Homo sapiens: one gene and its partner. The protein of the gene in region 1 purifies or fractionates together with the protein of each later gene. This does not show direct contact. Each region holds a gene or a part of one and is shown on either strand. Other genes may lie near its edges.

What was found. The genes of interacting proteins can lie anywhere in the genome.
Region 2: the proteins of ZMYM3 (region 1) and DIS3L2 fractionate together in Homo sapiens (co-fractionation; one large-scale study listed by BioGRID). This does not show direct contact.

What each region holds. Positions count from the first base shown.
Region 1 is NC_000023.11:71,247,641-71,251,140, reverse strand, and holds part of ZMYM3 (zinc finger MYM-type protein 3), read left to right. Parts: intron 1-414; coding exon 415-709; intron 710-937; coding exon 938-1,115; intron 1,116-1,461; coding exon 1,462-1,680; coding exon of another isoform or gene 1,681-1,698; exon of another isoform or gene 1,699-1,937; intron 1,938-1,971; coding exon 1,972-2,122; intron 2,123-2,339; coding exon 2,340-2,455; intron 2,456-2,616; coding exon 2,617-2,703; intron 2,704-2,828; coding exon 2,829-2,979; intron 2,980-3,234; coding exon 3,235-3,407; intron 3,408-3,500. UniProt on the Homo sapiens protein: Plays a role in the regulation of cell morphology and cytoskeletal organization.
Region 2 is NC_000002.12:232,136,213-232,139,712, forward strand, and holds part of DIS3L2 (DIS3-like exonuclease 2), read left to right. Parts: intron 1-259; coding exon 260-507; intron 508-3,500.

The DNA of each region.
Region 1 (3,500 bases):
GGGTGTGGAAAAGGTCCGAAAGTGGCATGCGGCAGGGCATGGATCTTCTAGCTCCTGCCGTCCTGCTCCATGAAGCGCATGAAGTGCCTGTCTCTGCTATGGGTTGGCATGGGAACCAGGGGCAGTGGGGGAAATTGAAAACAAGAGCAGTGAGAATGGCGAGTTTCCTGTTTCAGCTATGCCATCTCTGTCTCCGAATCTTCTCATTTAGAGCCTCTCCCTTTCCCTCCCTGGGAGGTTACAGAGTAACCAAGGGAGAGAGACACCAAGGTCTTAAGATACTGATGTAACAAGGGCCAGGGTGTAAAGGCCGGAACAACAGGGATCCCAGGAGAGGGACTGAACTGTTGGTCAGGGGATGGTTGGAGACCTGGTTTGGTGGCCTTTCTCATGTCCATCCCCCCACTTTCTCAGTTCCAGTGTCAGATGAGGATTCTGATGCCATGGTAGATGACCCCAATGATGAGGACTTTGTGCCATTCCGGCCCCGGCGCTCTCCTCGCATGTCCCTACGCTCAAGTGTGTCACAAAGGGCCGGGCGCTCTGCAGTGGGCACCAAGATGACTTGTGCACATTGCCGGACACCACTGCAGAAGGGGCAGACTGCCTATCAGCGCAAGGGGCTGCCTCAGCTCTTCTGCTCGTCATCCTGCCTCACCACTTTCTCCAAGAAGCCCTCGGGCAAAAAGACCTGTACCTTCTGCAAGAAGTGCGTGAGGGTCTTGGGGGCTATGCAGAGGGCAGGGATCTGGGCAGGAGTATGAGTAAGACAGAGACTGTTGGTAAGAACCTAGCAGGATGGAGCTGGGCGAGAGAGTGATGTAGGGAGAGAGTCAGAGTATTTGGCTCTGTGGTCATTGATCCTGGAGGAGGGGCGGAAGCTGAGGAAATGAGAGGGTGGTCTTGAGTGAATATTCAAACCTGTTCCCACCTCTAGGGAGATCTGGAACACCAAGGACTCGGTTGTGGCGCAGACTGGTTCTGGAGGCTCCTTCCATGAGTTCTGCACATCCGTCTGTCTCTCCCTGTATGAGGCCCAGCAGCAGCGCCCGATCCCCCAGTCTGGGGATCCCGCCGACGCTACTCGCTGCAGCATATGCCAGAAGACTGGAGAGGTGAGGACACTCAGTGGGGGCTGATTTACAGAGCCTGGCCAGCCCTGACCTGCCCCTCCCATCCTGGGGCTGCAGGGTCCAGGCCCTGTGGAAAGGGGAGTGGGGAGGAAAGGCGGCCATCATGAGGGAGCGTATTCAAGGACAGAGCTTCTCCAGGATGTGCACAGCTGGCCTTCCTTACCTCCCAGGACCTCACCATCAAGTCGGCAGCCTGCGGCGCAGGTTGGGGGGTCCCTGGGCCCACTGTCTGCTGTGAAGGTCTAGGGTGAGGTGGGGGGCTGACCTTGCATTGGGGTGGGCGGTGGTGGCCAGGCCCTAGCTCAGGGTGCGTGTATGTGTGTGGCAGGTCCTGCACGAGGTCAGCAATGGCAGCGTGGTACACCGGCTCTGCAGCGATTCTTGCTTCTCCAAATTCCGGGCCAACAAGGGACTGAAAACCAACTGTTGTGACCAGTGTGGGGCTTACATCTACACCAAGACCGGGAGTCCTGGCCCTGAGCTCCTCTTCCACGAGGGCCAACAAAAGCGGTTCTGCAACACAACCTGCTTGGGGGCGTACAAGAAGGTGGGGCCGAGGGAGTAGTGCATTAGAGGGCTGTGGAAGGGGGTGTGGTTCTTGGGTTATAAATAAAGGTGGCTGATGGGTCAAGGGCTGGGAGAAATAAAACAAATAAAGGGGGTTTCAATTGTATCCGTTATGTTTTATTTTTGAAGCTGGCTGGTGGATACACAGGTCTTTGTTACATCATCATCTATACTTTTTTTGTATGCCTGAAATATTTCATGTTTAAAACATTTAAAAAATAAAAGTGAAGGGACAAATCCAGCCTCAGCCTCTCCTTCCCCATCCTCACAGAAAAACACACGTGTGTACCCATGTGTCTGGTGCAAGACCCTGTGTAAGAACTTTGAGATGCTATCACATGTGGATCGTAATGGCAAGACCAGCTTGTTCTGTTCCCTGTGCTGTACCACTTCTTACAAAGTGAAGCAGGCAGGGCTCACTGGTAGGTGCAAAGCCCTCTTCTCTGAGTCCCCTGCTGGCCTTCTCTCTACCTCCCATACTCCCCTCTTCCAGAGTAATCCTTGCTGCCCGACCTCAGTCCCAACCACATCTCCCCATGGATTTTCTGTTCGTCTCTTACACTGCCTTACACCTTCTGTGTGCTCTCTCTCTCCCTCTCTCTTTCTCTTTTCCTCTCTCTCTTTCTCTCTATGCCCCAGGCCCTCCCCGACCCTGCAGCTTCTGCCGCCGCAGCCTCTCTGACCCCTGTTACTACAACAAGGTTGACCGCACAGTCTACCAGTTCTGCAGCCCCAGCTGCTGGACCAAGTTCCAGGTACTCCAGACCCTGGACCAGGGATAGAAGGGTTTGGCAACATAAAGAGGGTTGGAGAATTGGGGTAGGCAGGCCTGGGCAGAGCAAAGAACAAGCCTGACTCCCCTTCCCCACCGCTGCACACATCTTGCCCCTCCCTTACTTGTCTTCCTTCCCTCCAGCGCACAAGCCCTGAGGGGGGCATTCACCTGAGCTGTCACTACTGTCACAGCCTCTTCAGTGGCAAGCCTGAGGTCTTGGACTGGCAGGTAAGAGCCCCACCCCCACCCACGTCTTGCCACACGACCAGACTGTCTGAAGGGGTCCTTCCACTTGGCCCCTGCTGGGGCCAGATGTTACAGCTTGTCCTCCCTGCCCTGTGCCCCCACCTCAGGACCAAGTGTTCCAGTTCTGCTGCCGTGATTGCTGTGAGGACTTCAAGCGGCTTCGGGGTGTGGTGTCCCAGTGTGAGCACTGTCGGCAGGAGAAACTCTTGCATGAGAAACTCCGATTCAGCGGAGTGGAGAAAAGCTTCTGCAGCGAAGGTAAGGAGATGGGGAAGGGCAGAAGACACTATAACTCCCAGCCAGGGAGAATGGAGGAGAAGGGAGGGAGGCCGGGAAAGTGGTCCATGAGGCAGGGCCTTCTGCCCGGGATGTTCTACCCCCATCTCCCCTAAAGTTTTGGGCACAAGGGGCTGCTTAGAGAGAGGTTTCAGGTATAGCACCTTGAAAAGGTTGGGTCTCTTGCCCTTGGGTATCTGTGTCTCTGGACTCTCTTTCCTCTTCTCCTCTTTCCAGGCTGTGTGCTGCTGTACAAACAGGACTTCACTAAGAAGCTGGGCTTGTGCTGTATCACTTGTACTTACTGCTCCCAGACCTGCCAGCGCGGAGTCACCGAGCAACTGGATGGCAGCACCTGGGACTTCTGCAGTGAGGACTGTAAGAGCAAGTACCTGCTGTGGTACTGCAAGGTAAGGAGGGTCAGCATGCGAGCGAGGCGGGAAAGAGGGCAGTGGGGAGCACGGGCTGTGGTACTGAGCTCGGGGTGTGGACAGATCTCCAGG
Region 2 (3,500 bases), on another chromosome or scaffold:
CAGGTCATGGTAATAAAAGCACTTTGATTTAATTCATCCATGTATTGCATAATTTTTCTTGGATATGTATGCCTACTAGGTACTTCTTACAACTTAAATATAGATTACTAAGTCACAGATCATCACTGAGAGGCACTTATTTTGACCTAGAAAAACTGCTGGTTCCTGCTAGTTGATCAAATTATAACCTGCTGACCTCTCCCAAGTGTAATTCAGTTCTGCAGATAAACAACATTGACTATATCTTTGGTGTTTTTAGGTGGTTTACATCTTGGAGAAAAAACATTCTCGAGCAGCAACCGGCTTCCTCAAACTCTTGGCTGATAAGAACAGCGAACTGTTTAGGAAATACGCCCTGTTTTCTCCCTCAGACCACCGAGTGCCTAGAATTTATGTGCCTCTCAAGGACTGTCCCCAGGACTTTGTGGCACGGCCTAAAGATTATGCCAACACACTGTTCATCTGCCGCATTGTGGACTGGAAGGAGGACTGCAATTTTGCCCTGGGGTAGGTGATCTCTGGTAGGAAAAACCACAGGTCACAGGCAGAACTCAGTTTAGGTGGTCTTTAGGTAAACTTTTTGTGTATTTTAATTATTATTTCTTTATTGAAGCACGGTTTCTGGTGTATTTTGGTCCTGATTCTTCAGAAGTCACTCTTAGCTGCCACCTCAACTGATTGCCTGTATGTTCCTTGAATTACCAGGCAGTCACATTCTTGTTTTTGTTTTTTGGCGTAAAACATGAACATTCCGAGCCTCTACTTATTTAGTTATGTCATGTGTCCTATTTGTACTTGTGTACCACAGATAATTCATTGCATCAAACAACCAGTCCTCTCCTTGCAGATGCTAGTGTTAAACCATGCAAAGTCTAGGCATATTCAGGAGACCCCAGGCTCCTTTGCTTTAAAATATGAACATGAAGGTATATTTAAATGGCATTCTTTTTCGGTATTGATTTTGCCTGTGGCATTAAAAACTACCCTATTGTAAGAAGGAAAAGGGTATCATGTTTTTGTGGATGCTGTCAGAGATCAATCTAACTTAAATATACATGACATAGTCCAGGAGCATCATGGATGGCCACTTCATTTTCATCTGAAGAAACTGCTGGACCCAGTTGTTTGACCAAATGCTATGCCTATTTTCTTCTTAGAACTGGTATTCATATTGAAAGAAAAGCAGTAAGTTTTAGCTATGTTAAGTGTTTATTATAGATGATGTCTGGTTTATGCTTCACAGGAAATGACTATAAAGGTATACAATCTAGAAAAGAGCCTGTTGATTTACTTTTAGTCTAGTTTAATGACTTGCTTGTTGGTCATCTAACTTGTACAGGATGCACCCTCCTGGGAATGTCCTATGGGTAGGAGAGTCAGCACTGAATGGATGGCTACAATGTGCTGCTTTTATCAGGTTTATTCTATACTTAGCTTCTTATGCCTAGCAAAATAAGCCAAATCAAATGTGTGTGTCATATGTAAGAGTGTTTCATATATAAGAAACACTACCCTGTGCCACTTTTTCAGTTATATGAAGATTGGTGTGATTTAAATGATCTCATAGCTACTTAGGAACAGTTGTACTTTCTTTTTTTCCTCTCAAGTGGTGTGATTGCAATGTCATCATTTTTAAGCCTAACTAATTATCCAAAAGTGATGTCAACCCCTTGAGCCCTAAATAGTCCTTCTTACAAGCTTGCCCGTTTCTCACCATCAAATCAAAAGGCCCAGTAACGGTTGTGCCACCTGGTCCTGTTGATTGTGCAGCCACACTCTGTTTGGCAGTAAAAGAGGAAGACTTTCACATCAAACCAGGAAATCCAGCCTTGTTTTTTATCTGCCTTTCTGTCGTATCCCATTGTGTGTACTTGATTGGACTACTTCCTTAGTTTTCAAGTTGTAAGGGTGTAGTCAGGAAATCTTCATAGTATGAGTTTCTCTTATTACTTTCATGGCCTTATAGGTATTTTTTAATTTTTATTTTTTTTATAGCTGAGCCATTACTTCATCAGGAACCCTTTTCTTGAAGGTAAAATACAACAAAAAGGGAGTCAGGTCTTTGAAGCCTCAAGCACATTTGCTGGATTTAAAGAAATAATATTTAAAAAGTCACATATTAATCATGTAATTTTCAAAATAAAAAATGAAGATAATCATATTTAGATGGAAACATCATGCTTTTTCTCTACCTTCTTAATATAAGGATATAAAAATTGTCATTTATGGAAATATGCCTTTTAAAATCTTTGTGAAGAAGAGAAAATTTATTTTAAGAAATAAAACATGGTAGGTTTTCCTGATGAATTTCTCAAATGACGTCTGTTGTATGAGGGGTGAGGGCTGCAGCTGTTGAGTATGTTGGTGGTCGCCTTGCCATTTTGTTCTGGTTATCCGTTACTGATCTTTAAGAACTGAGGTCACTTTTTCTTAATCAGAACATGCTGTGCTATGACTGCCTAGGTTTCCTCCCTTATCTTTGCCAGGCTTTGACCAGGAGTGTGACGGTAATACCTGCTGTGGGTGCGAAAGTGTTATGGTTAGCTTCCACATAAACTATCCCTAAAAATCAAGTTTAGCTAAGGTGGCTTCCTTCTCAATTTGTTCCCAACTCCTATACCTCTCTCCTTAAAAGTATCGGACTTCCTTTGCCTATGTAATTGCTTCTAATTATTCAAGTTCAAAGTCATTTTCCTCTTCTGTAGTTACATTTAGTTCACCAGGCTGGTTTTGATCCAACTATGTGTAAAGCACTATGCTATATTATCTGAGAAATACAATGGTAAACAAGTTATGGATTCGTTACTTAAGGAACTTATAGTCTAATGCAAAAGGATTTTTGCATGTATATATCATAGCGATAATTTGATTCTAAGAAGTGTAATCCCACTTGAACTAATTTAAATAAAAGTAGAGATTAATATAAGAAGCTGGTGATTCTTTTAAAAACCAGAGCAGGAAATGGAGGAAGTCTCATGAGAAAATCAGAACTAACAAGGCAACAAAGGAACCACAGCTTCTCTTTCACCCCTGTGACTAGCCCAGCCACCACACAGTATCTTTTCTTTACCCCTTTTTGCACATGAGCTGTGTTATTCTGCTTCTCTCTGCACAGTAGTCTTCTACCTGCACAACAGCACACGTGGCCCCAAAATGGCACTGCCAGTCCTATGGCAGTTACATACTAAAGTCTAGATCATAATACAGAATTTCTATGGTGGAAAATCTTACTGGTCTAGCTTGAGGCAGGTGTTTTCCCTCGTCAGTAGTTTCAAGCAGAGGTGGGGGTCCAGAGTCCCATCCATGACTCACACCCAATTTGCAGCGCTGTGGGACTCCTGGGAAAGAGCGTGGATAAAACAGATGGCTTGAATGGCTTATCTCTTTGAGTTCTACCTACAGTACAAAACAGAATGTTCTAAGTTCTTCCATAGAATAGAATAATTTGGGGGAATTTAGAGGAGGTAGGTAAAGGGGGAAATCCAGGATCATTTCTTATA